Regions from separate parts of the Homo sapiens genome. Here region 1 is linked to region 2. Evidence: fine-mapped expression QTL. Tissue or cell type: whole blood. Region 2 holds a variant in brackets; the other region holds the start of a gene. All regions are shown on one strand. Distances are from middle to middle. Region 1 holds the start of LPIN1 (lipin 1). Region 2 overlaps LPIN1 (lipin 1).

The links. PIP is the estimated chance that this variant, and not a neighbour inherited with it, causes the effect.
Region 1: LPIN1 starts here. The variant in region 2 is fine-mapped to the expression of LPIN1 in whole blood (TOPMed, PIP above 0.99).

The regions. Positions count from the first base shown.
Region 1 is chr2:11,738,374-11,753,480 of GRCh38, forward strand. It overlaps LPIN1 (lipin 1), which reads left to right and starts at 8,259. Exons shown (of 21, transcript NM_001349206.2): 1 at 8,259-8,298. LOC124907735 (a long non-coding RNA gene) reads right to left here and starts at 7,086. Exons shown (of 2, transcript XR_007086220.1): 1 at 5,455-7,086; 2 at 1,563-2,929. RefSeq lists enhancers at 282-581, 6,426-6,999, 9,511-10,182, 10,955-11,214, 11,235-11,284 and silencers at 790-1,084, 7,938-8,507, 11,745-11,804.
Region 2 is chr2:11,777,981-11,793,087 of GRCh38, forward strand. LPIN1 (lipin 1) reads left to right here. Exons shown (of 21, transcript NM_001349206.2): 7 at 1,539-1,665; 8 at 4,221-4,527; 9 at 5,849-5,942; 10 at 6,906-7,096; 11 at 9,094-9,187; 12 at 10,407-10,476; 13 at 13,934-14,026. Among named protein-coding and RNA genes, the nearest start is that of MIR548S, 18 kb to the left of the region's middle. RefSeq lists an enhancer at 948-2,147 and a silencer at 6,743-7,037. The variant C/T (reference allele first, on the strand shown) is at 4,800.

The sequences.
Region 1 (15,107 bases), 40 kb before region 2:
TAAGGTATAATTAAAAAAAAAAAAAAAGAAGAAGAAGAGGGGAGGGTGTCAGTCTCCCCTCTGCTACATGGCCGCTGACTCATTTTCAGGAGCCAGCACCGCTGCTGGGGAGTCCCACTTCTGGTCCTGATGGAATAACAGGGAGCAGGTTTACCCTCCTGTCTTAAAAACAGCCGGAAAGCTGGACAAGTATGTGAAACAACAGTTAGTGGACACTGGACAATAGGCAGAACAGGACAGGGATTCCTGGGAGAGGGGAAGCAATAAGAGCAGCCTCACAAGTGTCCACCTCAGCAGTGCCAGGAGAGGGAGCCCAAACAGAGCCTGAGGGCCTGCCCAGCTCAGGAGATGGAGTGTGGGCTTCCGGGAGGCCAAGGGAGCTAGAATTTGCAGGGCAGAGATCTGCAGAAGAAGGAGCCACAGAGAATGGTTCAGAGATCTGCAAGGAGTGCCTTGAGTCTTCAGCTGAGTACTGGTCTGCACATGAATGTGAGGAAACCACCAAGGAAGGAGCTTGCAGGCAGAACGATCTCCAGAAATCACTCAGGCCTGGGGATATTGTGTGTCTGTGAGAGCAGCTTAGAAATAGATCCCTAAATTATCTGATAGTCTTCCTTTCAAAAAGAGGCGCCTACACCTACCTCCCTTGAATGTGGGCTGGGCTTACTAATATGTTTCTAAAGGACAGAATGTGGTGAAAGTGACGATGATGGTTTGTGACTTTAGAGACTAGGGTGTAGAAAGCCTTGTGGCTCCTGCTTGCTCTCTCTTGGGTCAGCCCCTCTGGGGGAAAGCCAGAAGCTGTATTGCTCAATCAGCCTCCGGACAGGTCCATGAGGCAAGAAATGGAGCCCCTGGCTACAGCCATGTGAGTCACCGTCCTGGAGGCAGATCCTTTGGCCCCAGTCAGAGGGCTCCAATCCAGCCATCACCTTGACTGCGACCTCACGAGAGAGCTTGAGTTAGAGCCACCAGCTGGGCCACTCCTGGATTCCTGACACAAGAAACTGCAGGGAATAAATACCTGTTGATTCAAGCTGCTAAGTTTTGAGGTAAATTTTATGCAACAAAAACTACATTTCCATCAGCCAGACTGGGAAGACCCCCTAAAATTCAGGACATCGAGGAGAAAAGTAGAAGAGAATTGCCTCAAAGAGGTGACAAATTAGTCCTAAAACAAAGGCTGTTCTGGATCTGCCGTAACAATGTTGAACATCAAGGCTCAAAAAGATCAAACTAATCGTAAGTAACTTTACTGCATCTCAGAACAAAGCACAACACTGTTTAAAGGAATATAATAAAATCTAGCCACCAACAGTACAAAACTGACAATGTCCCGTGTCCAAACAAAAATACTGGGCTTGCAAAGAAGCAGGATAATATGACCTAGGATCTGGAGAAAAATCAATCAATATAAACAGATCCAGAAATGACATTCATGATAGAATTAGATGAGGGTGTTAAAACGGCTACTATTTATATAACCATATGCGAATGACATTCAATGTAAACCCTTTGTATCAGGATTCTCCAGAGAAACAACCAAATAAGATAGATAGAGATATAGATAAATGAGAGGGGATTTAATTTGGAAATTGGCTCACATGATTATGGAGGCTGAGAAGTCCTATGATTTGCTGTCTACAAGCTAGAGAACCAGGGAAGCTGGTGACATAGCTCAGTCTGAGTGCAAAGGCCTGAGAACCTGAGGGGCCATCGGTGCAGGTCCTGGAGTCCGACGGCTGGAGACCCTGGAGTGCTGATGTCCAAGCGCGGGAGAAGGAGGGTGTCCCAGCTTCAGAAAAGGGAGTGAATTTGCCTTTCCTCAGCCCTTTTGTTCTATTGAGGAATTCAACTGATTGGATGGAGCCCAGCCCACACAGGTGAGGATGAATCTTCCTTCCTCACTCAGTTCACTGATCCAAATGCCAACCTCTACCAGAAACACACTCAAAGACATCCCCAGAGACAATGCTGTACCAGCTATCTGGGTATCCCTTAACCCAGTCAAGTTGACACCAAAAATTAACCATCACACCCTTCAATTATAACTTCCCCGCACTTTGCGAGGTCGAAGCAGGCAGATCATTTGAGCTCAGGAGTTCCAGACAAGCCTAAGCAACATGGCGAAACCCTGTCTCTATAAAAAAAAATACAAAAATTAGCTGGGTGTGGTGGGACTCATCTGTAATCCCAGCTACTTGGGAGGCTGTGGCAGGAGGATTGCTTGAACCTGGTAGGTGGAGGTTGCAGTGAGCCAAGATCACCCCACTGCACTCCAGCCTGGGTGACACAGTGAGGCTCTATCTCGAAAAAAAAAAAAAAAAAAAGGAAGAAAGAAAGAAAAGAAAAGAAAGAAAGAAAGAAAGAAAGAAAAGATCTTCTTATCAATTGATATGGGGTTAAATAATTGGGGGATAAAAAATTTGAAGCCATCTTCCCAGAGATGACAATAAACAGAAATAAACAAGTGAAAACCCAGAAGATCTGTGGCTGCTAATCAGAGGAAGCAGGTCTGAACAGGGAACCACTTAGCTGTAGATACCAAGCAGTGTCCAACAGGTTGCTTAGCAGAGGCATAAAATCATGACTTTTCTCAGGCACTTCTCATAAATTTCTTCCCAGAGCAATCAGAGATGCTGCATCCAGTTTACTTATTCACAATTTGGGCACGAAAGAGATCTTCCTCAAGCCACGGAGAAGACAGGCTTGACAAGGAGCAGGACGGCCTTCACAGCAGCACAAATGGGAGGCCCTGTGAAATTCTCCCTGGAAGGCAGAGCTAAGAGATGTCAGCCCTGAGGCTTAGCATCCCCATAGAGGGACTGACCAGGAGCCCGGGAGTCCTGCCCCAGCTGTGTCCCTAAGTTGCTGGGTTAACCTCTGTAGAATGTGAGGATGGCCTGGTCATTTTCATTCTCGAGAGACACTGGAGAGAAAAAGAACATTTTGTGAATGATGTCGTGTGTCCACAGGTAACTCTGAAGCGTGAGCTGCCAGAATTCAAGGCCACCTGCTTAACAGAAGACAACTAGAAACCTCATCCATGAGCAGAGTAAGCACTGCTGTTCAGTAGTTCTATTACTGTTAAGGTGTTATGACCATTAGATAAATAATATTGTTTGGCAACTGCAAGGAAAAGAACTGCGTAAATTGGTTCCAAACATTGCCACTCGAGCTCAGGAGTTTGAGACCAGCCTGGGCAACATGGCGAAACCCTGTCTCTATAAAAAAATACACATCCTGGCTAACACAGTGAAACCCTGTCTCTACTAAAAATACAAAAAATGAGCCGGGCAAGGTGGCGGGTGCCTGTAGTCCCAGCTAGTCAGGAGGCTGAGGCAAGAGAATGATGTGAACCTGGGATGCGGAGCTTGCAGTAAGCCGAGATCGTGCCACTGCACTCCAGCTGGGCGACAGAGTGAGACTCCATCTCAAAAACAAAACCAAACCAAACAAAACAAAAATTAGCTGGGTGAGGATGTTGCCCAGGCTGGTCTCGAACTCCTGAACTCCTGAGTTCATTCGTCAGTGATAAGTCCATGCAATCACTGAGTGGTAAGAGCTTGAACTGGTAAAGTGATTTGATATTTTATTGGTTATCTGGATCCCAATATATCTCATTTAATTTCCTCCCAAAGCTGCTGAGATGGGGATGGTTACCTCTGTTTAACAGCTGAGGACGCTGAGGTTCAGACAGCACTCAGCCACGTGGCTGAGCTGGACTTGAATTTGAGCCTGTTGGATTCTGAACCCTAGACTTCGTGCACCTGACCAGGTTGCCTATTATTAATGAGAAGATCTACAGTCATGTGCCGCATACCAATGTTCTGGTCAACTACAGACTGCGTATACGATGGTGCTCCCATCAGATTCTAATACCGTATTTTTACTATACCTCTTCTATGTTTAGATAAGTTTAGACACACATACTGACCCATTGTTTGCCTCTCTGGGCCTCAGTTTTCCTATCTAAGGAAGGGGGGACTCTTAAGGGTTTTCTACTTCTGAGCTCTCCTTAGCATTCTGTCTGTGTAGCTGTTTTCTTAGCACTGGAGAATGTGAGACTTGAGATGTGCTGCTTAAGGCTGTGACAGCCCCACACTTGTTTAGCAAGGTCATGGGTCATGGCGACTCAGAGGACTGACTCATGGTGATATGCGGGGTCTTTTTGTTCCTCCTGGAATTAGAGCCCACTGTAACAGTCCACACTTCCCAGCATAGCAGCCACTGTTTCTAAGTAATGGAGTTCTCTCCTCCCATCCCTGGTCATGTTGAGGTCTCTTTCCCTGTCCGCTCCTCGCACCTTGGTCTCTTTCTTCTTTCCTGCCTCTCTGCTGTTCTGTGTCTTAGCCCCGCTCATTATGAATTGTTCCCAATCTGACCAGAGGAGAAAGGGCGTTCCAGACCCCCTCTGGCTTCATCCAGTGGGAGACAGGCATGGGGCTTGCTGTGAGCTCCCGAGCTCCCCCGCCCACCAGCGGCCAGCCACGGCCTTCTTTCAAGCACCTGTGCGTGCCTGACTGCTGTGCATGTGCTGCTGGCTGGCCCGTGGTTCATTCTGCTCCTTGACACCTGGCCTAGATTTGCCTAGGTCGGTGCCTGCTTAGGCCACCAAGGTCAGGTGAATCCTCTTGCTTGGGGACAGGGCAGGTCAAATCCTGCATCAGTGCACGGCCCTTCAGTTCACAGCGGCCTGAAGCACTGTGACAGTTTTTACGCGATCACAACCCAGACTGTGCACTCCCTGAGGACAGACACTGTGTCTGGTCTGCTCCCCTTTGTAGCCCCCAGTGCTCAGCCTAGGGCCTCCAAGATGCTCCTGTGTGTCCAGCTGTCAGCCTTTATCACTCTGCCACTTCCTGTGCCTCAACTCTAATCTGCAGGCCCTGCCCTAACTGTGAAGTGGGCCTCTGGATAGCCCGGGTGACCGTCAAAACCTTCTGTGCTTTGGTTCCAGCTGTTTGCTCTCCGAGGATCACTGTCCTCTCCCTGCGGAACCCAGAACCTTTTACACCTGCCTCTTCCCCATGAAACTTCCCTGCTCAGCCAGCCACAGCACCCAGGGGGCCCCATTCCACCTTGGGTGGATTCCCAGGCTGCTCTGTTCCCTGCCACCAAGGTAGTGAAGCGGCACCAGGTGGCCCCTGGTTCCCACCTGGTTCTTAAGAGAGTGCGCAGGACAAAGTCACCTCGTGAGGGGCCCCCAACCAAGGAGTGGCCTTAGACCCCGAGGAGATGCCCTCCCTTCCCCGGAGCCCCAGGCACTGGTGCCAGGGATAAAAGTCTGCACCTCTAGGGGAAGAATTCATTGTCCTCTCTTTGGGATCCTTTCTGCCCGGGCAGTTACAGAGCTAACCATGCTCAGAGTCCTGGGGGATCAGCCAGTGTTTCTCCTTCCTACAGTAGCTCGCAGGGCACCCGTGAAGAGGGATGCTCATTCTTCCCGCCTACCTTGCCCCAGGTATTCTGGGCCTGTGTAGGTGGTTGATCTGGACAACTTCAGAGTTCTCGGGATACAACAGCTACTGTCACCAGCTGGGCTCAGCAGTGAACAGATCCTTCTGGGAATGGCCACTCCTCAACTTATGGGGTTTTAGAATTGAAAAATCTTCCAACCCCACAACTGTGACAGCAGCTTCCCATGATGCCTTTTTCATCCTCAAAGCAGATCTGTGTCATGTGCACCTGCAGCCCATTTCCTGGATTGTGAAACTGAGCCTCTAGAATCAGGATGCTTGTGCTGGCTTTGCTAAGGCATTACTCAGCCCCTCCTTCCTCCTCCAGTCAGCTAGAGCAAGATTACTCATCCCTGGAGTTCCTTCTCCTCTTCCGAGTGCAGCTAGGTCCTGGGATTGGCCAGGGGGATCGCCTCAGCTCTCCTGGCTGAGTCACTGCTCAGTCAGGCCTGGTTGCTGATAGCACAGCCAAGGGCCCTCCCAGGGGGACTCCAGCCAGTGCCTGATCAAAAGCGCCAGGGCTTTGGAAAGTCCGGTTTCGTTTATCGCCTGGGAGTGCACTGTGATCTAGTGAGTGTTTTCTTCTCATTGCTTGTTTATACAAAAGGCTCCCCCCAACCCTTGGCCTTCCCCGAGGTGGTAGGCTGGGCAGCAGCGGGACCTAATTTGCTCTGAATCCAGCCAGACCCTGCTCATCAGAGCTGACCCTAGCCGTGCTGGGCCCCCCAGCTCATCATTTTCAGAATGAGGGCTTTGAGTTGAATTGTCCTATATTTTCAGACCTCCCATCTCCACATTTGAATAATGGACTTATTTTACACAAAAAATAAACTTAAGTGGCCTGAAGTTGGACTGGCTTCCTGGAAAGCCTTTCCACATAGAGTAGACTTCTTCCCAGGCCAGCTCCTCCCTGGAGGTGGGAGGGGAGGGTGCAGGAGGGCTTCCTTCTGGGGCCTTGCAACCTCAGCAGTTTTGGGCAGCCGTGATGCACTTGAAACTCTGGTCTCTGAGAAAACCCCTGTGGAGGTAGCTCACCTACAAACTGCAAGATTCTCTTTGTGTAGCTCCCACGTCTGCAATGTCAGCATGGGACAGGCTGCCTAGATAGGAGCTGCCCCAAGCCCAGCGGGAGCGTGTCCACACTTGACCAGATGGACGGGAGCCGCGCCCCTGGACAAAGCTCTCCAAGCAGCTGTCCCCAAACATCTATCTCAAGCTTGCTGGCTTATCCAATTCACTAAGCTGCCGCATTCGATGCTGTTTCTAAGCTGGCCTCCTCCCTGGCCCTCTGCATCTCAGCAGAGCAGCGGTTCCATCTCCACACTGAGACTTGCCTTTGAGTATCGCATCACACACCTCCACCGGTTCCATTCATCAGTAAGCCTGTGGGTTTTGCCTCCAAATCTCTCTGAAGTCCTTCCGCTTCTTGCTGAGTAGCCCCTGTAATCTGAGCCACCATCATGTCCCCCGGTTTCCTGCAGTGCCACCTGTCTGCTGGCTTCTACTCCTGCAGTCCATTTTCCATGGAGTGGAGGGGTGACTTTTTAAAGAAGTAAATTAGATCATATAATTCCCAGGTTTAAAATTCTTTTTGGACCAGGCGTGGTGGTTCACACCTGTAATCTCAGCACTTTGGGAAGCCAAGGTGGGAAGACTGCTTGAGCCCAGCAGTTTGAGACCAGCCTGGGCAACATAGGGAGACCTGGTCTCTACAAATAGTTTGAAAAATTAGCTGGGCGTGGTGGCATGCACCTGTGGTCCCAGCTACTTGAGAGGCTGAGGCAGGAGGATTGCCTGAGGCCAGAAGGTGAAGGCTGCAGTGAACCGAGATTGTGCCACTGCACTGTAGCTTGGGTGACAGAGTGGGACCCTGTCTCAAAAAGAATTGGTTTGGAATAACATTTAAATAATACCTAAACTCCTTGCCTTGGCCTACAAGACCTGAATATTTGGCCCCTGCCTTCCCTCCAGCCCACAGCACCGGCCCCAGGACCTTTGCACCTGCCATTTCTGCTCTCCAGAAAGCCCTGCCTCCTCCCCATCTTTGTAGTCATAGGTGTTTCTTGTCATTTAGAGTTTCAGTTCAAATATGACACCCTCCCATTGATGGAAATCATTTCACCACCAGACGTTATGTGGCTCATTGTTTATCCGCTGCCTGCCTCCCGGCTGGAGAGGCGCAGGGAGCTGCCTGTCCCTCCTGTTCAGAGCCACCGTTCCGCACCTGGACCACCGCTTGGCAGAGGCGGGAGTGGAGGCTGTCACCATCAGGATGAAGGACAGGGGTGGCCCGGCGTGGAGAAGCTAAGAAGAGATGGCGATAGGTCAACGCGATTGCGCCTTTAAGGTGGAAGAAACGAAGGGCGAGGGTCAGTAAAGTCAAGGACGGGCTCAGATCCCGCCACTGGTGATAAGCGGGACCCATAGGACCGACGTGATCGCGGCCAGGCCCTGGGTGGTTTACCTGGACTTTTACCTGGCTGCCTTTTCTCTGCACCCCTCCGTCCTCACTCCCCCAGTCATCGGCATAGGTCAAGTCAGAGTGTTGAAGAAACACACGAGTTTGGCTCTGGAAAGGAAAATCAGAAAGGCGGCCTAAGGGGCCCCACCCCCAGGAACGCTAAGATAGGCGGCCAGGGGTGAGCGGGCAGGGCCGGCCAGCAGGCCCTGAAAGCAGCCGGGCCACCAGCGCGTCCCGAGTCCCCCTCGCACCGCCCCGCTTGCCCCGCCCCTGCCCTCTGCCCCCGCCCCTGCCCCGCCCCCGAAGGCGAGCTGCGCTGACAGCCGGCGGCGGGCTGGGTGTTTGCAATACAAAGGCGGCCACGCGCGGCGCCGCTCGGTGAGTAGCCGCCGCCTCCAGCCTCCCGCTGTGGAGCAGGGGCCGCAGCCTCGGGTTAGGCGGGGCGGGGCGCGGCGCCGGGGCGCTGAGGACGCGTGGCGAGGCGGGGGCTCGGCCCCGGGGCCCGAGGACCGACGGCCGGGCTACGTCCCCGGGGCCCTCTACGGGAAGTGGTTCGGGGGAGGGAGGCGGGGAAACAGGCCCCGGAGGCCGGGAGGGCCTCGCGAGCATCCCTCGGGCCTGGCTTTCCTGACGCGCCGCGAGGCCCGGTGTGGGCCCGGCTTGGCTGATCTCGAGCGGCGTAGGGGCCACTGGGGGCTGCCGCGCAGTCCCAGAACCGCGGGGACTAGCTCCAGCCGGCCAGCGCGGGTGCGTCCTGGCTCTGCGCGATCATCCCCAGCTTTGCGCCGGGGACTGGGATGAGAGCCTTTCTTTCCCCCGGAGTTAGGATTCCAGCGCTGCAGTTGAGGAAACTGAGGCTCAGGGAGGTTGACCTCTGTGCCCAAGGTCATACAGTTGCCGGGCGGCAGGGCAGGCTGAGCCCAGGTTGGAATCCCGGTTCTCATATTACAGCTCTCCCCTGCGAGGCCTCTGCACCTTTCTTGCAGCCTAGGAGGTGCTAGGCCTAGTGAGCTCCGTCAGCTGCTCCTGCACGTAATTTTATTATGGGCAAGGCCAGGAAAATGCAGGATGAGAAGTAACGTTTTGGGAGTAACTTAAGTGCTGTGGAGCTAGAGTAGGTAATTTGTGTGGTCAGTAGTTGCTGGAGAAAGCAGATGTCAACCCTGTTTTTGATCAGCAAGCAGGAAACCAACTAAGACAACTGGCAGTATTAATTTGGAGATGTTTTAGAACCCGGCAGTTTCCCACAGGATAGAAGTGTTTTGGGAAATCAAAGCTTGTAGCCGTTTTTTTAATTGGGGGTGTTGTGGTATGGTGGTCTAGGGGTAGTGATTGTGAGATTGACTGTTTATCCTTTGTTCCGTAATTTGGGTCTTATTAATGAAAGTAAGCAGTTGAGGAATGTATAGTATTTGAGAAATAAGCACATCCACACATGAACACTTTTCTTGCTCCCAGATTCTTGTTGAAAGGTGTAACAGTTGGATTTATGATTATATACTTTGATAGCACTTCACGTTTGCCAGCATTTGTTATTGAGTGTTTTTGTGCATGGGTTGTGTGTTTTGGCGCTTATTATTCCTATTTGCATGTGGGGCCCTGTGGTCCTGTGGAGCCAGGCCTGGATATAGCCCTGGACTCGGGTCGGGAGGTCTGGGCTCTGCCTGAGCTCTGTGGGACCCTGAGCGAGTTCTTTCACCCACCCAGGTCTCGCTTATCAGCAGTTCCTTTCTTTTAGAAAAGCACAGGGGGACAAGGGGCGGACCTGCTGAGTCTTGTGGTGTGGGAGAGAACGCGAGGGTTCAGGTGAGAGACCGCAGGGATTCCTGGTTGTAGGGGGGACCTTGGAAGTGACTGAGAAGGAGCCTGCCCTGGATTAGGTGGGGACAATTGGCCTGGCCCAGCCAGAAGGAAGTCTGTGGGTCCTGCTCTCCTGCTCTTTGCGTGGTCAGCTGCACAAAGGGCCCAGAACAGACGGCAGGGGAGGGTCAGGAGATGAAAAGATATTTCAGAAGAAGGTCCTGAGGCCACCGTGGTCTGAGATGCGCCGAGGCCGGCACAGAGCACTGGGCTTTGCAGTTGTTGTTCTGACCACTCACAGATGTAGAACTTGGGCAGAAGACTTCAATCCTCTGAGCCTCAGTTTTCCCATCTGTAAAATGAAGGGATAATCATACCCATTCACAGGATTGTTGCAAAAATTAATTGAGATAAAAAAGAGCCCCTGGAACATAATATGGGGTCCACGAATCATTGTGGTTGTTATGATTTTAAAGTGCCACAGGGTGCCAGCGAGGAGGGGCTCTTTGTGGGGTTGGGACAGTCCTGGCTGACGCCGGCCTCTGCTCTGTAAATCATCCCTGTGGGACACCCCCTCCCCCTGCCTGCCACCTCTCTTCCGGTTGGCTTTTCCGGACCATCTGTGTACTGGGTTCAAGGCCTAAAAGGTACCTAAATGAGGTTAATTGATTTGGGCAAGCCTGCCAATGGGGGTAGTCGAGGGGTACAGGCAGCTTTTTCCTTAGGGTGGGAGGGGGCTGTTGCACGGATGTCGGCAGCTTTTGGAGCATTTTGAGAGACATCCAGGTGTTAGGTCCCGCCAGGACACCGAGGCTGGTGGTTCGACCTGTTTGCACTTGCACTTCCTCACTGGTAGCCCGGGCGTGGGATCTTGGAGCTTTTGAGGGGTCCTGAGGAGGAAGTCCCTGGAATCACCCACTAGCAGCTTTGGGGCTTGTTCCTTGAGAAGGGCAAAGTCACAATTTTGACACTTTATTGAACCCTGGACCAATGTATTGTATAATAAGCCCACTCATTTAAAACTGGAACGGGGTGTGTGGGGAAAAAAGAGTTGGGACAAAACCCAAGCAAAGCCGTTCAGTGACGTCACAGGTTCTTCATTCAGAAGAGGCCCAGGTGCCTATCGGATGGCTGTTTCTGAAATGTTCGCTTTCTGAGCTGTGAGGGAGGGTCTGGAGAGAGAGAGGGGCCCATGCCTGTGTGTCGAGGGGACACACCCACACTGGCCCTGCTCCTTGATCAGAGGATGCACCAGCGCCTGAAGGGAATCTGTGCCCCCTAGGAGGCCACACTGGGCCCTGGGGCTGCTGGGGTCCGAAGCAAGTGCCCTGACCTCCCTTCCTGTGGGTTCCCTTCCTCTTCCTCTTTCCACAGCTTTCCCCTGTCTGTCTCCCTACCTGTAATTCACCCCAACAAGCCCTTAGCAGCTGGGGTTGGGGTGGGGTCTGTGCAGCCAGGGATATGTTGAGTAGTGAGTTTCTGCCTGTAGAAAGCTCTGGGTCTGGGCTGACCCAGACCCAGGCTGACACTTTTCACAATGAGGTATGTGGCCCAGGAGTCTTAAAACCTCAGCAGTGTCTGGCCCACAGGCTGTTCTGCACACTGAGGGATGCAGGGCGCGTTGTGCCGCTCCCACTCCCAGCTGAGAGGTTGGGAGGAACCAGATGGACTGGGCTCCATCAGGAGAGAAGCCAGAAGCATTTTCACACCGGTGGTCATGGCTACAGGGTCATGGTTACAGTGGATTTTTCAACCCACTGACCAAATGTTGTGATTCTTGCAACAACTTAAAATTTTCGGCTGATGCTGAATGCTGGGGCTTTCCAGAAATAGCCATAGGCTGTTAGAACAGGCACTTTGCTCTGTAAGGAGGCCTGTTTGTTCCTGAGTGTGAGCTGATTTGCATTGGCTCACAAAGTTGACCACAGACCCTGCATGGGAGACACAACCAACACCCCCATTTGCCTGCTGGCACGCACTTGTGCCCCCCTCCCCTCCCCGGCCTCGCTCCCTGGAAGCCCTCGCACCTCTCCCCTTGCCCTCTGTCCCCTAGCCACACACACTCACTTTTTGATGAAGTCGTCCTCCGCGTTCATGGATCTCACTAGGCTGTAGGTCTTCAGTTTACAAGACAGGAGACAAGCAACAAGGGTTTTAGGATAATGGGCACCAGACAAGACAGGCGCCCAGACAACTGTTCTGGCAAAACAATGTCCCACCATTGGACTCTGTGCAATGCCAGAATGCCACCAGTCTCGGGGTGGCCTCTTTGGGCTCAGATTTTGGGCAAATGAGAATGTGGAATGTAGGCATAGCCTTCAAATAGTTCTGTATTCATTTTAACTAGTAATATTCTTTGCCTCTGTCTTTTTGGGAAGGTACTATTTAAATAGGTGATATATACAAAGTCCCCTCTGGCAAGAGACGTTATTCAAAGACCGGATTTTGTCTGGAACCAGTTTGTGGTCACAGAATTAGCACGTGGTTTTTATTTGGTGCATGTGCTTTGAAAAGTACTTTACATTTACTGCCTCACAACAGTCCTATGAGGTGGCTGTGCTGATGTCATCCCTTTTTATAAAATAGATGCGAAACTGCAGTGCAGAGAGCTTAGTAACCTGTCTTTGATCACAGAGTTAGTGGAAGGTGGAGGCAGGATTTGAATACCTCCAGAGCCTGCGCTCTTACCTGCTGAGCTATATTGTCTCCTAATAGTGCCCTGGAACACCCAGGTGATATATGCCCACCTCCCAATTGCTGGGGTGTGGTAGGGGTGGGGGGTAATACAGAAATAAAGTTATAAGGGCAGAGCATTCTTTTTGACCAAGACACGAATTTGGACAGAGGGCTCTTGAAAGTGCGTAGAGAGAATGTGCCATTGGGTCTTTGAAGGAAAAGAACGTCCTGTCCTTAATCAGTGAGCTAAATAATTAAGAGCCAAAGGATCGGAGTCAAAGCCTTGGGCTGTTTTGCTCAGCATAGTTGTCATACCATATTTAGATGTCTACACCCACCTTTATCCAGGCCATTTGTATTTCTTGGCAGGAACGTGAGAACAAGCGTCACCTGGGGTTGTGGTATCTGAGGGTTGCAAAGTGTCAGCGCTGGAGGAGCTGAGTGATCACTCATCTGACCTTCCCTCCAAAGCAGGAGTACCCCTGTCCAGCACCCTGTCCTGTCTCAGTGGTTTCAGTGATGGAGACCCTGAGACTGAGTGGACCAGAGTTTTCCATCCTTCACTCCCAGTTCTCTGAGGTTACTAATAATTGACATGAAATACATGCAGACATAAAAAACACAAGCTAGAAAGCAACACTATGGGAAGTATTTATGATAAAAAGTGAAGATCTCTTCCTCCTTTTCCCAGGCTGGTCCCCAGGGGTGAATCTTGTGAATCTTGTTTTGTATGTATCTCATTCCAGAATTTTTTTATGCATATCAAAATATGTACAAATGTAATTTTTTAAAAATGGGTCCAGCTGGGCGCGGTGGCTCACGCCTGTAATCCCAGCACTTTCGGAGGCCGAGATGGGTGGATTACGAGGTCAGGAGATCAAGACCATCCTGGCTAACATGGTGAAACCCCGTCTCTACTAAAAATACAAAAAAATTAGCCAGGCTGGTGGCAGGCGCCTGTAGTCCCAGCTACTCGGGAGGCTGAGGCAGGAGATTGGCGTGAACCTGGGAGGCGGAGCTTGCAGTGAGCCGAGATTGCGCCACTGCCCTCCAGCCTGAGTAACACAGCGAAACTCCGTCTCAAAACAAAACAAAACAAACAAACAAAAAACCACAATGGGTCCATATTATAAGTATTTTTGTACCTGTTTTCATTCTATATATACATTTTCATGTTAATATTTATGGAGCTACCTCTCTACCATTTTATTATCAGCCTCATAATATTCCATTTTACAATGTGGATGGCCCATAATTTATTAAGCCAGAGTCATACAGATATTAAGTTATTTCTGATTTTCCCTATTACAATTAATGCTACAGTTACTGTTTTTGTACACGGATCTTACTGTATTTGTACAATCAGTTCCCAGCGGTATAGTTGCTAGGGTTTGCCAATAGGTGCCCCAAAAGATGGGCATTGCCACATTGCTTACCCCATTTATGACCCTGTTAGTAGTGAGTGACGATGTCTGATTCTCCTACTTTTCATGGGCCCTGGGGTTTTAATGAAATGCTTTGATTTTGGACCATCTGAAAGGCCTCTTTCGATTCCTGTATCTTTAATTATGAATGGGGTTGAATATCTCTCTCATATATTATTGGCCAAATGTGAACTGTCTATATGTTTTGTCCATTTTTTCTTTTGAGCTGTTCCAAGGCCATTTTTTTTTTTTTTTTGAGACGGAGTCTCGCTCTGTCGCCCAGGCTGGAGTGCAGTGGCGGGATCTCGGCTCACTGCAAGCTCCGCCTCCCGGGTTCACGCCATTCTCCTGCCTCAGCCTCCCAAGTAGCTGGGACTACAGGCGCCCGCCACTACGCCCGGCTAATTTTTTGTATTTTTAGTAGAGACGGGGTTTCACCGTTTTAGCCGGGATGGTCTCGATCTCCTGACCTCGTGATCCGCCCGCCTCGGCCTCCCAAAGTGCTGGGATTACAGGCGTGAGCCACCGCGCCCGGCCTCCAAGGCCATTTTAAACTGACCTTAATCTTCTAGAGGTGGCTGGTGTTGGCAAAAATTGTGGGGTTAGGAAAGCTGTGGCAGGGGTTTTGAATTTTGGCAGTTCCAAGAAAGCAGCGTTTCTTGGCAATTTGTGAAGCCTGGAGATGGATTCTGCCAATTTTGGAATAAATGTGGAATTTTCTAATTTAATCGTGAGGCAAGAAACCATGTGACCTCTGTCACCTCATCCTGACAGTGTCCGCAGTGCTGTCCTTTCTGGAACTGTATGAAATTGCGGTCGTGAATGCTTTGGAGCGTCTGCTGTGTGCTGGAGTTCTACAGATGAGCTTAATTATGGGAACGCCCTCCTGTCCCTGGGCAAGGAGGGGGATGAGCAGGGTGGGGGTGTGCTGGAGGAGGAGACGCCTGCCACTTTGCCACCCTGGAAGCTCACTGCAAGAGCTGCAAAATTTCCCACCTGCCTAACACAGGCAGGGCTTTGGTGGCGGGACCCCAGGGCTGGCTGTTTTTGCTCTTTCATCACTTTTGTCAGGAAGTATTGAAAGACCTTTAAAAGGCCTCTGACTTGCAGGGCCTCTGACCTGCAGGCCTTTTAAAGCATCTCCAGCTTTTCTAGTGAGTTTTTGTATTTTGGACGGGAATGTCTCACGAACCCTGGCATGCCAAGAAAGTCCCCAATTTCCCAGCAGGTAGTGATGGATGCAGAGCTGTGCTCTTCTGTTTAAGAAGCTCCTCAAGGCACTCTGGC
Region 2 (15,107 bases):
GGAGGCCACAGCCTGCGCTTTTCCCATTGCAGTGATACCGAACACGTGACTGTAGACGCTTCAGTGCCACCAAAGCGTTGTCTCTTTGGAGAAGTCCAGTTGTGGAACTGGAAGAGCAAGGAGGTTGAAAGGCCAGGAGCCTTTCCCACATGGACGTGGGGGGGCCCACGTGCCTTCTTATAGGACTGCTCCCTAAAGGGCAGAAATGTGTGTCTGTTGGGAGCAGGGTGTCCCATTGCAGAAGCTCTCCTAATGTGATGTCAGGAGCCTCCTCTCCCCAGGCAGGCGAAAGAGAGCGTGCAGGCTGCCCCGTGGCAGCACGTCATTAGAAGGGCTGGGAGTCATGGGCACCAAGGGAGCAGGGACCACCCTCTGCCCCTTGGTGTGAGATGAGAGAGATGGCACTTGGTCTGGCTGCTCTATGCAGCTTGATCAAAGAGATTCAGGATCAGTTTAGCCCACAAGGTCCCTGTTTGTTGGATACAAGTTATGTATCATCATGAACTCACCTTGTATTGACAGGAAAGTTATATTCAATTGGAGTTGAACTCTAGGTAAATGAGACCAGAAGCATCAGTTTCCGAAGAATAGATAAGGTCTGGGAAAGAAGACGGCAAGGGAAACTGAAAGCTTTATTTCCTGCTTTGTCTGAAAAACCCTGCCGCCTTCCTCTAGAGGAAATGATGTGGGAAAATAAGCAATAATTAACCATGTTATTATGCGGCAATAAATAATTACAAGAATTGCTGCTGTAAATAATATTTCTCTAAGTTGTTTAGAATATGGTGAGGATCTTGTGGATAAGTTAATGACTTTTGGATGGTTACTTTGGCTGGGCAGAAGTAAGACCTTGTTTGGGTCTTCAGAGTAAAAATTCAGGAAACATGGAGGTGGTTACTGAGCGAGCCTTAACCAGTTGGTGAGTCCCTTGTGAAGTATTCCTGGAAGACATAAGATCTTAGAAAATTTCAACTTGTAGGCTCCTGCCCAACGTTATCGAGTTTATTTGTGGCATCCAGCATCTTTGGTAAAATTGGCACATCATATAATTTCCCTGTTTCCCAGGCCAGTGCAGATGATAAATATTTAAAATATGGACTCTAATGAGTGCCTGCCCGAGCCAACCAAGACCCTTTTGCAGCCCTCTGACAGCAGAGGAACTTGATTTGGAAACAGATTGCAGGAGATGCGAGTGCAGAGTGGGGTGGGGAAGGGTGGTCTTTTTGAGGTAAGAACAGACTATTTTTCCCTTTCTCTTTCCATCTCTTTCTTTTGTATTCTGGGCCACTTCTTTTTCTCCTCTCCCCCGCGGTGCACCAGGCGGCAGGGTGGGGCGGGCGACCCACGTGGAGCGCCTTCCATGGGAGGCGCTTCCCTGCCCCCTGGTGGCCGGAGGAGGGATTTGTCATGAGGCTCCGCTCAGAGCGAACGACAGCTGGGGGTGCATTTTCTGGGCTATTTGAGCCATGGAGCTGGGCCCAAAACATTTACAAAAGTTTCTTTTCCCACCTTAATTTTCGCTTTGTGTTTTCCTTAAGTCCTTCCGGTTCCCGACCTTCAACACCTAAAAGTGATTCAGAATTGGTCAGCAAGTCCACGGAAAGGACAGGGCAGAAGAACCCAGAAATGCTTTGGCTGTGGGGAGAGCTGCCGCAGGCTGCTAAGGTGAGAGTCTCTTCAATTCTGCCACGGACCGAAGATTTCTAACTCAGCTTAAATTACATGGAATTAGTATCATAGCATAGCCAAGAAACACAGCTACCAGGAGCCAGAGGTAAACCAAAATATATTAAGGGTTAGCCTTGAATGTTGGAATTACTTTCTTCCACGTTACCAACATTATAGAGAGGTCTCATTGCTTTTGTAGATTTTAAACCTATGGGATTCCTCTTAGGATTTACTTTTTTTTTTTTTTCTTGAGACAGAGTCTCACTCTGTCACCCGGGCTGGAGGGCAATGGCTCTATCTTGGCTCACTGCAACCTCTGCCTCCCAGGTTCAAGCGATTCTCCTGCTTCAGCCTCCCGAGTAGCTGGGATTACAGGCGCATGCCACCACGCCCCACTAATTTTTGTATTTTTAGTAGAGACGGGGTTTCACCGTGTTGGCCAGGCTGGTCTTGAACTGCTGACCTCAAGTGACCCGCCTGCCTCTGCCTCCCAAAGTGCTGGGATTATAAGCGTGAGCTGCCGTGCCCAGCCAGGATCTACATTTTCTATCACAGCTAAATGCAAATTAAATTAAAGAAATACAACTTACACACAATCTTGCTGTCTTGAAACTGTAAACAAAAATAGCTTCCAGCTCTTGAGTCTGCTAGGTCATTGATGAGTGGAGCAAAGCCACAGGGAGAGAGTTGTGGACTCTTGGCCCATTGAAAAAGAAGCTGAGTTGTAAGAGCTGGAATCCACATGTTCTTGTGTCCCTCACACAGAGAGACATCTGGGAGAGCCCTGGGAGAGGGAAAGGCTAATAGAACAGAAATGAAAGATTTCAGCCTAATAGATAAACAAAGTCAGAAAACCTTAAGGTTTTGATTCATCAAGTAGTAAGTATTTCTGGGCCCTCATTGTTGGTGGGACCCTGAATTTGACCCTATGGAGATCTCCAAAATAAATAGAGAAGCAGCTGAGGGTAGCGGAGAGAATGAGGGCCTGGGAGGCAGCAGGTTATTCTGGGTTTGAGTCCTCACTGCACCGCTTGCTAAAAAGGTGACCTTGGGCAAATGAGTAGACTTCCCTGAACCTCAGTGTCTTCATCTGTAAAACTGTGAGAAAATGACAGAATTGTTGTGAGGTTAGAAGGGCTAATGTAGGTATGTGAAGTATCTGGCACCTGTAGGCCCTCTGAATATTTGCATTCTTTCTCCTTGGCTGTGGTACATGCACGCTGAGCCCCAGTTTCCCTATCTTGGATATGCAGTGGGTTTACATGTAGGTACATAACTGGTTCAGCAAATATGTTTCTAAAAACATGAAATGAACACAATCTTTTCTTTCAAGAAATTTTATTTGGTATGCTAATGTATTATAAGCATCTTGAATTATGTTATTATATCACAAGCTTTAAAAAATATTGTAAGGTCCTTAGAAGATGCTATAGCCTCTTGCATCCCCAATAAATGTTTGTAATATGAATGAATGAGTGAGTGAGTGAGTGAATGACTATTGAAAACATCCCTTATAAAGAGTCAAGATGGGCAGCTTTTTGGAGAGTAGTCTGTTGAGGCCAAAGTTGTGGATCCATTTCCTCTCTAGGTTATATTTAGATTTCATAGAAAATGCTGATTTACCTGTCCACAGCTATGGTGCTGACCCAGCCAACTCTCTTTGCAAGTTTATGTCGTTAGTTGCTGGAGAAACAGCATGGAAGTGCAAATCCATCACTTCTTCTGGCAAAATAGTTGTAACCACAGATTTTCTGTAGCATTGTTTTTATTTGCAATTGAAGCTGTTTGATCAGATAGAGAAGTGAATACTTTCTCCCCTCTTTTTAGCCCATGAATTGCATTTTGGTTTTTGTTTGAATAAATCTTTTCTGTAACTGGAAATCCCTCTGGCGGTAGAATCAGAAATGCTAATTTCTCACTCATGTGAACCAACTGTCACCAAATCTTTACTTATTCACTCATGTTTTGGGAATAAACTTTATTGAAATATACATACAGAGAAATACACACATTGTAAATGTATAGCTCAATACATTTTCACAGCAGGAACAGATCTGTGCAGCGTGCACCCAGACCGAGAAGCAGAGCATGACCAGCAGCATGGAAACCCCCACTCTTTGCGGTCACTGCTCAGACTGACCCCTCTGCTCCCTGCAAGGGGAAACTTGATCTTAGCAACAGAGATTAGTTTTGCAAGATTCATTCATGTTGTTGGTGTAGCTGTAATTCATTTATTCTCATGGCCACTGAGAATCCCAGTGTGTGTGAAAAGACTTGTAATCTAACAGCATTTAGGGTGCTCCTGCCTGTTGGCATTGCTAATCTCACTTCTCTTTGGCAGTTGATGTTTCACAGGAAAGTTCATTTGCTTTGGACCTAATATTCTTGGTTTCTGGACTTTTTGGCAGGTATAGAAATCACCAGGTGATTGTTGAGGCTTAAAAGTCCCTGCCTACTTTTGATTACTTGTTCTCCTTGGGTCACTCAGTTTTTCTGGTTGCCTTTGTGCTGACCTTGTCTCTCTCTCTGTCCCTCTCTCCTCTTTGCTCTAGTCTTCTTCTCCACACAAGATGAAAGAGTCCAGCCCATTGAGCAGTAGAAAAATTTGTGATAAAAGTCACTTTCAGGCCATTCACAGCGAATCTTCAGACACTTTTAGTGACCAATCGCCAACTCTGGTCGGTGGGGCACTTTTGGACCAGAACAAGCCTCAGACAGAAATGCAGTTTGTGAATGAAGAAGACCTGGAGACCTTAGGAGCAGCAGCGCCACTCTTGCCCATGATCGAGGAGCTCAAACCCCCCTCTGCCAGTGTAGTCCAGACAGCAAACAAGACGGATTCTCCTTCCAGGAAAAGAGGTACCAAGGCTGGGGCTTCCCGGCTCTTTTTCTGTTCATAGTTTGTGCTCACTCTACACATGACAGGTCCTTTCCAAAGTTCCAAGGAAACTGAGGTAGAAACTGAACCGTGACAATGATCATGTTCAGTCTGAGCTCTTCAGCAGAATATATTAATTATCGGAATTTAGTCATAGGAAATCAGACATGAAGAAGGCCTTGAGGATCATGTAGCAAACTTCATTTTACACACTGAGGCTGCTCGCTGAGACCTGGGAGAGTTAAGTCCTTTC[C/T]AGCACACCATGGGACCCATAAGTGTGACTTTTATAAAGCTGATTATTAGGTTAATCCTGGCCACCTCTCTCCTTGCCCTGCGTTGCTTTCCAGCCCCTTACCCACTGTAATTTCTGCATATCATTTATCATGATTTCAAATGATCATTATTTTATTGATTTATTTTTGCCTGACTCCCCCATAGAATATGTGCTGTCTGAGATCAAGAGTCTTTTCTATCTAACTTGCCTTTCTCTCCTCGGCGCTTGGCATAGTGGTTGGCACACAGTGGGCGCTCTGTGTTGGTTTAATGCACTCCTGGCTGTGTGTTAGTATCAACGATGCCAGGCCTGATCTCCATCCACCCAGCAGCTTCGTGTGGTTTTCTAGAATTATATGGACCAATTACATCATTTTCTGCTAGAAGTAAAGAGGACATTTGAAGTCATCATGGCCAGTGTCTGACAATGCACAGTGTGGGATGCTTTGCCTCGGGGTATTGATGGGGAAGTGCCTAATAAAAGCTTTTATCATTTCATAATAAGTGTAATAATAATGGTAATAGCCTCAATGCGTTTAGTGCTCAGTACACTTCAGGCACTTTACAGAGGAGGAATGAGGCTCAGCAAGTTAACTAACTTGATCCAGGCCACACGATGGTGGATGACGGCCCTGGTTTGTGGACCTTGGTGGTCTACGGTCACGTTGTACTGCCCACCATTTTCCAATGGGAAAAGCGCAGGCTGTGGCCTCCAGCGAGGGGCCTCGGTACCTACAAGTGTGACCTCAATCCACTCTTTCTCCAGCAACATCATGGAATAAGTCCATCAAAACCACCTCACCCTCAACGGTACTGTGCCCAAACCTCAAAGTATTTGTCTAAAAAGCTCTTGCCATTCTGTTTTACCAGACAAAATAGAACACACTTGGAACTGTTGTGGTTCTTGGGCAGTTTGAGTACCTGGGAGCAAATCTGCACATAGTGTTTAAATGCTGTTTCTATAGATACAAGGCCATGAGCTCATTTCTAGAAGAGTGGTTTTCTGACTTGAGCCATTTGCCGTTTTAGATAAACGAAGCCGACATCTTGGTGCTGACGGCGTCTACTTGGATGACCTCACAGACATGGATCCTGAAGTGGCGGCCCTGTATTTTCCCAAAAAGTAAAATTCCTGTTAATTCCTCACATCATTTCCTATAATCTGAATATCATTCTGTGTGAGACCAGTTTCCCCTTATGTTTGATTAGAAAGTGTGCAAGACAGCTGGGCGCGGTGGCTCACGCCTGTAATCCCAGCACTTTGGGAGGCTGAGGTGGGCGGATCACTTGAGGTCAGGAGTTCAAGACCACCCTGGCCAACATGGTGAATCCTCGTTCTACTGAAAATACCAAAATTGGCTGCACGTGCTGGCATGCACCTGTAATCCCAGCTACTCGGGAGGCTGAGGCAGGAGAATTGCTTGAATCCAGGAGGCGGAGGTTGCATTGAGCTGAGATCATGCCACTGCACACCAGCCTGGGCCACAGAGTGAGACTCCATCTCAAAAAAAAAAAAAAAAAAAAAGTGTGAGAGAGAGGCAGTGGGAGGCTCCCATTGCCTTGTGAAATGCGCCTGCTCTATGGACATAAGGGTGCGGGTACTGGGCGGCGCCCCACCTCTGGACAGGGGCGCAGCACCGGGCTGCCCTCCCTGCAAAGCCTGAGGTCATGTTGTCCACAGTGGTCGTGGTCCACAGCCCAGTAAGTGGCAGCTGTGCAGCCCTTTTTTCCCCCAGGAGGGTCTCCCGTGATCCTGGGGACCCACCCTCAGTCCCCCTGCGATCTAGGGCAGGGCTGGCGCCTGGAGGGGAAGGGCAGGGAACAGGGAGGACAGCTTGCTTCTTCTTCAGTATATTTTAGGGGGATACAGGGAGATGCAGCCAGCTGAGAAGTAATGGTTTTCTCTCCTAAGCTAAGGCGTTTAATGTCTCTTTCCTTGTCGTGGTGCTTTAATAAACATCTGTGCTGAGATGCAGCCGTCTGCGGCTCTGAGGGTGGCCGCGTGCCAGAGCATCACTGGATGGTGATGTAGGACCCTGAACTGGGACAGTCCTCAGCCGGTCTCTGCCGCTTTTCCTCCTTCCAGCGGAGATCCTTCCGGACTCGCAAAACATGCAAGCGACAACGGAGCCCGGTCAGCCAACCAGTCCCCGCAGTCGGTGGGCAGCTCGGGCGTGGACAGTGGCGTGGAGAGCACCTCGGACGGGCTGAGGGACCTCCCTTCCATCGCCATCTCCCTCTGCGGGGGCCTCAGCGACCACCGGGAGATCACGAAAGGTACCGCGGGCCTCGCGCGGGCGCCCTCTGGTGGCCGCCGGTCAGAAGGCGCAGAGGCTTAGGCTTCTCCAAGGAGTGCGTGTCAAGGCAGCTTTTCCCTTGGTTGCGGTTAATGATAGCACAGATGATAGCACCGAACTCATAATCCCGATGTTTCTGGCTTGCAGTTAGTCGGCCTCAGAGTTCTGTGGGTCACCCATGGCTCGGGCCATCGTTGTGTGTCTCCTGTGCCCCAGGCTAGCACTGCAGAGATGGCCTCCAGAGGCCTGCAGGCTAGAGGGGGTGTCAGTCTAATTAAATTAGAGGGTGTCGGCAGCGAGAGAGAAGTGCGCCGGCGCCTTGGAACAGGGAGGTCTGAGTTTGTCGGAGGAGGGCTGGGAACTTTTCCCAGCTGGATTCAAAGGGCGTTAATCGGGTGGGCTTAGGTGATTCATTCACAGCACCTGCCACATTCGTAGCAATGCACTCCCAGGGCCTCCTGACAGTTCCATGGCAGGGTGTGCCCACGCCCCCCAGTGGGTGCAGTCAGCAGTTATCAGCTGGGGACTAGACACAGTGGCCCTGCACCCCTCCCGCCCCCTCTCTCACCACTGCCTCTTTTCCATCCCCTCGTGGTATTTCTAGCAGGGAAGGGGCCGAGGCTGTGTACTTCTTCCCTCTACCTCTCAGGAGCCACCCCCATCTCCCCTTCCAACCAGGGCTGCCATGTGAGACTCCTGCCTCCACCCTGGTCCCTTCAAGGCTTTGGGAATTTTTTCTTCCGCAAAGATTGAGACCTTTTTGTTCTCACGCCCGTGCCAGCCAGTCCCTTGAGAGCGGAAACAAGATTGTGTGCTGGGTCCCGCCGGCTCCATTCATTCACTCAGTTTTCCTAGGGCCACACATTAATACCCAGCCTCACTGTGTTTCTGAAGTCATGGGGGCTCTCTGGACACTGGCGTGAGGAGTCCCCTGGGCGTTCCCTCCCTGATATACATGAGCTGGTGGGGGTGGGGTGGCAGCACTGACAAGGCTGGGCACCGTTATCTGAGTGTTATCTCATGGGGCCAGGATCTGCAGCTGTCCAGTCCTTACAGGTGAGGCCAGATCGTCACAGTCAGGAGACCCCAGGAGAGTCCCCGGAGGTCCTGATTAGGGCTCTGAGGGTGCATGTTGAAGCCAGTCAGGCTGGCATCAAGACCCAGGGACTCTTTTCCTGGACGGAGGAGATTCTCAGTGTCTGATGTCTGCTGGGTTTCGGTTCGGTTCAGGGTAAATAGGAGCTCCCAGGGAAGGAGTGGGCGTGGCTCTGGGCCAGGGAGATGGTCAGAACCGCGGTCAAGGCTTAAGGTACAGCCCAGCTGCCAGAGCCCGTCAAAGAACTGAGGGTCCGGGGCTGAGGTCTGGGCCTCCTGACCCTGCCACCTTCTCCTTTGCTCTGATCCTGGTGGGGCTGCCCCACCATGATGAGAACAGTGCCCTGCCTGCTTCTGATTGTGGTGGAGGCAGCCCCATTTTTGAAAGGGCCCTGTGCTTTCTATTTACGACATTATCAGTCCCCATGACCACCCTAGGAAGCAGATGTGGTTATTATCCCCATGCTAGAGGAGGGAACTGGGGCCTGGGAGGTGAACCGCTTGCCCAGGGTTACCCCCGTAATCGTGACTTCAGCCGAGGGAGCCTGGCTTCTGCGCCATGCGTAGCCATGACTCTGCCTGTGCAGATGCACGTGTGTGCTGTTTTCACCCCTACTCCCTGTGTGAACGTATGTGCCTCAACTAAGGTACACGTCCCCCAACATCCTCAGCCTTGCCCTGGCCTCCCTGCATTGCTGCACAGACGCCGCCTTCCAGGTAAAATGGTGCGGCCTTTACAAATACATTTTATAGGATTGTCTGCACAGTTGGAATGCACAAACTCTCAGAAAACACTTGTGAGTGAGCAAATGAAAGGTAGGCCTAATTTTGAACTGAATTTTCTTTTTGTTTTTCCCTGATCCTCTGCAATTGCTGTCACAGATGCATTCCTGGAGCAAGCTGTGTCATATCAACAGTTTGTGGACAACCCCGCTATTATCGATGACCCCAATCTCGTGGTAAAGATTGGGAGTAAGTAAGTACCTCTTGAAAGTCACTTTGGCAGTAGCATGATACTGTTTCTGTTTCATGTTTTCAAATAGACCTAGACATTAAGCCTTAGAAATATATAAAATAAAGACTTTGCTACATTGCATTATTGCATTATCTTCACTGTGGTCAGGGTTCCATGCCAATAGAATTGGCAATATAGCTGATAGGTTCAGATAGCTCTCAGTCTTGTGAGTTTTCTTTTCTTTTCTTTTTCTTTTTTTTTTTTTTTTTTTTGCGACAAGGTGTAGCTCTGTCTCCCAGGCTGGAGTGCAGTGGTGCAGTTGTAGCTCACTGTAGCCTTGAACTTGTGGGCTTAAGAGATCTTCCCACCTCCGCCTCGCAAAGTGCTGGGATTTCAGGTGTGAGCCACTACACCCAGCTCGATGTTCTTATTGAATGTGAATAGTCACACTCTGCAGTACATGGGTATGTCAGAGTAGCCTACATCTCTACCCTTTTGAAAAACTTCATTATCGGCTGGGCGCAGTGGCTGGCGCCTGTAAACTCAGCACTTTGGGAGGCCAAGGCAGGCGGATCATGAGGTCAGGAGATCGAGACCATCCTGGCTAACACGGTGAAACCCCGTCTCTACTAAAGATACAAAAAATTAGCTGGGCGCGGTGGCGGGCGCCTGTAGTTCCAGCTACTCGGGAGGATGAGGCAGGAGAATGGCGTGAACCTGGGAGTCGGAAGTTGCAGTGAGCCAAGATAGCGCCACTGCAGTCTGGCCTGGGTGAAAGAGCAAGACTCTGTCTCAAAAAAAAAAAAAAAGAAAAGAAAAACTTCATTATCTGAGGGCAAGGGATGTACAGGTATTTTTGCAGACTGTTAGCAAGCTTTTCTCCCTTAAGCCATGGATGTTTTACACCTAGTTGCCTTTACCTTGACACGTGGCAAGAAATACCCCAAGCACGTCGTGGTTTGGTGCAGCAGCTGTACGGTGGGATTTGGGCTGCTGGCATGTCCAACTGTCTGCCCTGCTGGCACGGCTGCTGCTGGGCCCTCAACTGGCCGCTGGGGTGAGGTGGGGGGAGCCTCTGCCTAGGGGTGATATGGAGGAGGGCTGGGGGCTAGCAAGAGTATTGAGCTCTTTAAGGGCCTCGCTGGAGTCCCGAGCTTTCCTTGACTACTTTATATGACATTGGAAAGGTTTTCAGTCTGAGCCTCGGTTTTTTGACATATATTTCATTGTTTTGTGTTAGATATTATAACTGGACAACAGCAGCACCCCTCCTCCTGGCAATGCAGGCCTTCCAGAAACCTTTGCCAAAGGTGAGCTTTAACATGAGAAAGAAAAGGGGATGCTAGAAATGATGGGTAGCTTAATCTGGGGTGGTTGGAATTTCACTTTTATTTTGGAAACTACAGAGTTAATTCCACTGTGCTCTTTTGAAGTTCATGAGCATACAGGCCAGGAGTTTCTGATCTCTCTCTTGCACCTTGCACGTGGTTGCCCCTCTTCCTTATCAAGGCAAAACCTCCCAATCATGGTCGAGCGGACCGAAGATTCCTTTCTCAATATCTGCCATGCAAGGGGTACAGGTGGAGGCTGAGCAGACAGGTGCCAGGACCTCAGAGCCCAGTGAGGACAAAGGGAGATGATTGTCACCCTGGAAAGGTGGAGCAGGCATCAGGGTCAGGTGCAGGTGCCCTGTGTCAAGTGTCAAGTGTCAGTGTCAAGTGCTGCTCAGCCAGGAAGCCAGCCCCATGCCTGAGTCTCTGAGGCCAGAGCCAGTACAGGGCCTGGACAGCTCCCAGTCTGCAGGGGAGAGTAGGTAAGTGGCCGTAGGGAGGAGTTAGGAGGGCAGCCACGCCACCTGCCAGTCTGCAGTGTTCTCATCCTACCCCAAACAATTCACTAGACAGTCAGCCTGGAGTTGTTAATTTTTTCAATGATAGATCTTCCTGCTAGATTATACGTTCTTTGCTGCAGAGACTGCCTTAGGCTTGTTTGTATCCTTTGTGCGCTTAGCAAGCTTTTGTATGGCTTAGGATGTTGCCGTCGGTCAGCCAGTTCAAACACTTGAGATTCTTGAAGGTCTAATTGGACTTTGTTGAGTCTAGGCTTGCTGCTTCCTGGGTTTGTGTGTGTGTGTGTGTGTGCCTGTGCCTGTGTGTCAGTGTGTGCTCATGTGCATGTGTGCATACGTGCATGTGTATGCATTTGCATGCGTGTGTGTGCGCATGTATGTGTGTGCATGCGGGTATGTGTGCATGCTTGTGCAGGTGTGTGCCTTATGTGTGTGCGTGTGTGTATGTGCATGTGTATATGTGTGGATGTGCACGTGTGTGCATGTGTGGATGTGCACGTGTGTGCGCGTGTGCATGTATGTGTGGATGTGCACATGTGTGCGTGCATGTGTGGATGTGGATGTGCACGTGTGTGTGTGCGTGTGTGTGTGTGCATGTGTTGTGTTTTGAGGACCGCAGTCTCATCCTGGGTGGTGCTTTATCTGATTATCTTTGTGGACTGGGCTGAGGGCATGTTCTCCAGAGTGGTTTTTATTTTGTCCCTGCCATGGTATCCATGGCCTGGGACACATTTTTATGTCACCGTTCTCAACACTTACAAATCCGTAAGAAAAAAGGCCATTGCAATAGCAATATAGCTAAAGGATTTATTTATTCACTGAAGAAGAAATCCACATGGGCTCTGAAACTTAAAAGACATTAGTCCTTGTGATATGCATGCTAAATCTTTCTACAAGTCAGTAACTTTTGACTATATATGGCATTTCTCTAATATAGAAATTATTTTTAAATGTAGAATTTGCCCATCTTATCTTTTATGGCTGTTGGGTTTTGTATCACACATAAAATGGCCCTGCTTCCCCATTTCCAAAACTTGTGAAGATAGGCCCTATATTTTCTTTTTGTGCTTTCTTGTATATGGGGCATATTTTTACAAGTTTTGGAAATTTCGAAAGATCTTAAAATCTTTCATCCATCTAGATTTTGTTTCAAGTGTAATGAGAGGTATTAGGAAGCAAACCAGTTTTTTTCTCAGGAAGTTATTGAATTGGTGAAGATGATTTTTGTTTTAGGAAACAGAATGACTAAAAGTGGCTTAAGTAATGATCTCATATGATGAGGATCTTAGAGGTTGGCAGTTTCAGGCTTGATGAATTTGGGTTAGCTTCTTTGTGATTTTCTCAGCTTTTCCTTGATGGTCACAAGGTGACTGCCGTACACATCGTCTGCTCAGACTGCCGCATCTGAAACGGGAGGGTAGGGGCAGCTCTCTCATAGTTCAAGACTTGGTCACATGATCACCACTAAAGCACTTCTTGGCAAAGCAATGAAATGACTGTGAACGGCTTCGACCATTGAGGTGCATCCTCTGGAGTTGAGCCAGTCTTCTCCGCATGCATTGCAGCCTGATTCTTGAACAGAGTTTCAGATCTGTCAGCAAGAAAGGGGAGGCAGATGAGCTGCTCACAGGGTCTGACATGGCTACTGAATTATCCCAGGACCGTGTATTAACTAACCCTATCCTCCACTCAGAGGCAGTTACAACTTCACCCTCTGTTACGTGTCTCTGTGAATTTAGATTTATTTCTGGACTTCGTTTTCTGTTCCTGTGATATGTGTCCTTGTATACCAACACTGCATTCTTTTAGTTACCATATATTTTGGTATATTTTAATACCCAGTAGTGCTTGTTCTACTTACTACTCTTCTGCCTGAGAATTTTCTGGGCTATTTTTGTTTGTTTTTCAAATGAACATTAGAATCAGTTTGTGAAGGACTGAAAATACTCCTGTTTGTTTTTTTCCTTTCTTTGGCCTGCTTTCTTTTTTTAAAAAAAATGTGGTTTTGTTACATTTATGAGTGGATTTAGGGGAAATAGGGTCATTCACAGCTTTGTCAATTGTCCTATTTATGAGCTGGATGTGAGTGGTTTGCATTTTAGTGCAGTTGGGTTTTCTTTTGTGTCAGATAGGGATCTTTTAAGCTACATAGTAAATTACTTATCTGTCTGCTTCCCTTAGACTGAATCTTTCAGCTTAAATCTTTCTTTTGTTACTAGCTGAGGTGTCAGCTTCTTGAAAGTTCTGTAAACTGAGGAAGGGACATTACCTAACTTTTACCTTGGTCCTGGAATTAACCTCAAGATAGATAGGTATTTTGTTCTTTGGAAAAACGTAGAAAATTATCAATTCATATTTAATCTCCCCATTAAACCCATTTACCTAAAAGTATGAATTTTCTTTTTAATACTCGAGATTTTAAATCAAATGTACCTATTAATGCAAATGTTTAGAAATTTACCCTTAGTAAAAATCTTATGCATTTTACCTTTTGTTGAAAACTGTTTTATCCTCTATCCCATATTAATCATTTCATATTTTATTTGATAATCATCATATTGAGAGTAATGATATCTTAACCAGTTAGCCACTTTAATTTGAAAACTTCCAGTCTTACTAATCACTAATGATTTCTAATGCTTTCTTTTTTTGTTGTTGTTGTTGTGTTGTATTTTATTTGTTGTTTGTTTATTCCTTTAACATCTTCTTAAGTCTTCATGCTTAAGTTACCTTCATGTAATTTTGGACGCCATTAGGTTTTGCTTCTCTAAAATTTTTAACGCACAAATAGTATGTTGTGTTTTCTCTGATTTTTTTTTAAATCTTACTTTAATTTGCATGTATGTTTCTTTTGGTTTGAATGTGCTAAGTTGATCTTTTTTTGTTCCATTATTTATGTTACCATCCATTTAAAACAGGCCACTGTGGAATCTATCATGAGGGATAAAATGCCCAAAAAGGGAGGAAGATGGTGGTTTTCATGGAGGGGAAGAAACACCACAATCAAGGAGGTAAGCCCAGAAGACAAAGCAGTGCTCACACTTAGCAAGTGTTGGTTTTGTGTAGTGAGATTGGTTTTCATGTACTTACATCAGAGAAATGAAGATAGGCCCTAGTGCTGAGTTTCCATGAGCCAGCTCTGCCATGAAGTAGGGCGAGTGCTCGTGGAACGTGGGGAAGGTGGGGAGGAAGGTCAGGAGCCAGCAGCATAGGTGTCACCTCCTGGCTCTGTAACTGTTGGGAGACTGTGGTCCAGTCACTCCCTCATGGTAAGATTTCGTCATCTATAAAAGAAGGGATTCAGCCTGGGAATTCAGTTTCTTAAGAAATTAAATATCTTCCTTCTGCTTGTGGAGACAATTTTTCTTTTTCTTTTTCTCCCCTCCCCTCCCCTCCTTTCTTTTTTGGAGACGGGCTTGCTCAGTCACCCAGGCTGGAGTGCAGTGGTGCAATCTCAGCTCCCTGCAACCTCTGCCTCCCGGGCTCAAGCAATCCTCCCATCTCAGCCTCTAGAATAGCTGGGATTACAGCCATGCACCACCACGCACAGCTAAGTTTTGTATTTTTAGTGGAGACGGGGTTTTGCCATGTTGCCCAGGCTGGTCTCAAACTCCTGGGCTCAAGCGATCTGCCTGCCTAGGCCTCCGAAAGTGTTGGCATTACAGGCGTGAGCCACCATGCCCAGGCTGTGAGGACAATTTTAATGAGGCATACTCACAGCAGTTGACTAATTCTCTGAGTCCTTTCACTGAAATGGCATGTCTAAAGGTCCATGGCTTTGGCGTTCATGTCTATGAGTGCCTGTGATTTCTTTCAGATCTTCGTTGCCCTCTCCTCTATTTCTTGAAGCGCTTGCTTTGCTTGGCTCCCAGGCCCCTGTGTCCACCTGGGTCTCCTCCTCCCAGCAGGCTGCTCCTGCTCTGGCTTAGTCACCTCTAGGAGGGTCCTCAAAGCTCATGTTAGGCCACCTTTTCTCCTTTTACTTCTTACTTTTCCCTTCTGCCCATGCGATGACTCCATTTTTGTCTCCAAACCAGACATTCTTTTCTACTCCACATCCACTTATCAAGTAGTCGACTAAGCAGACATCGT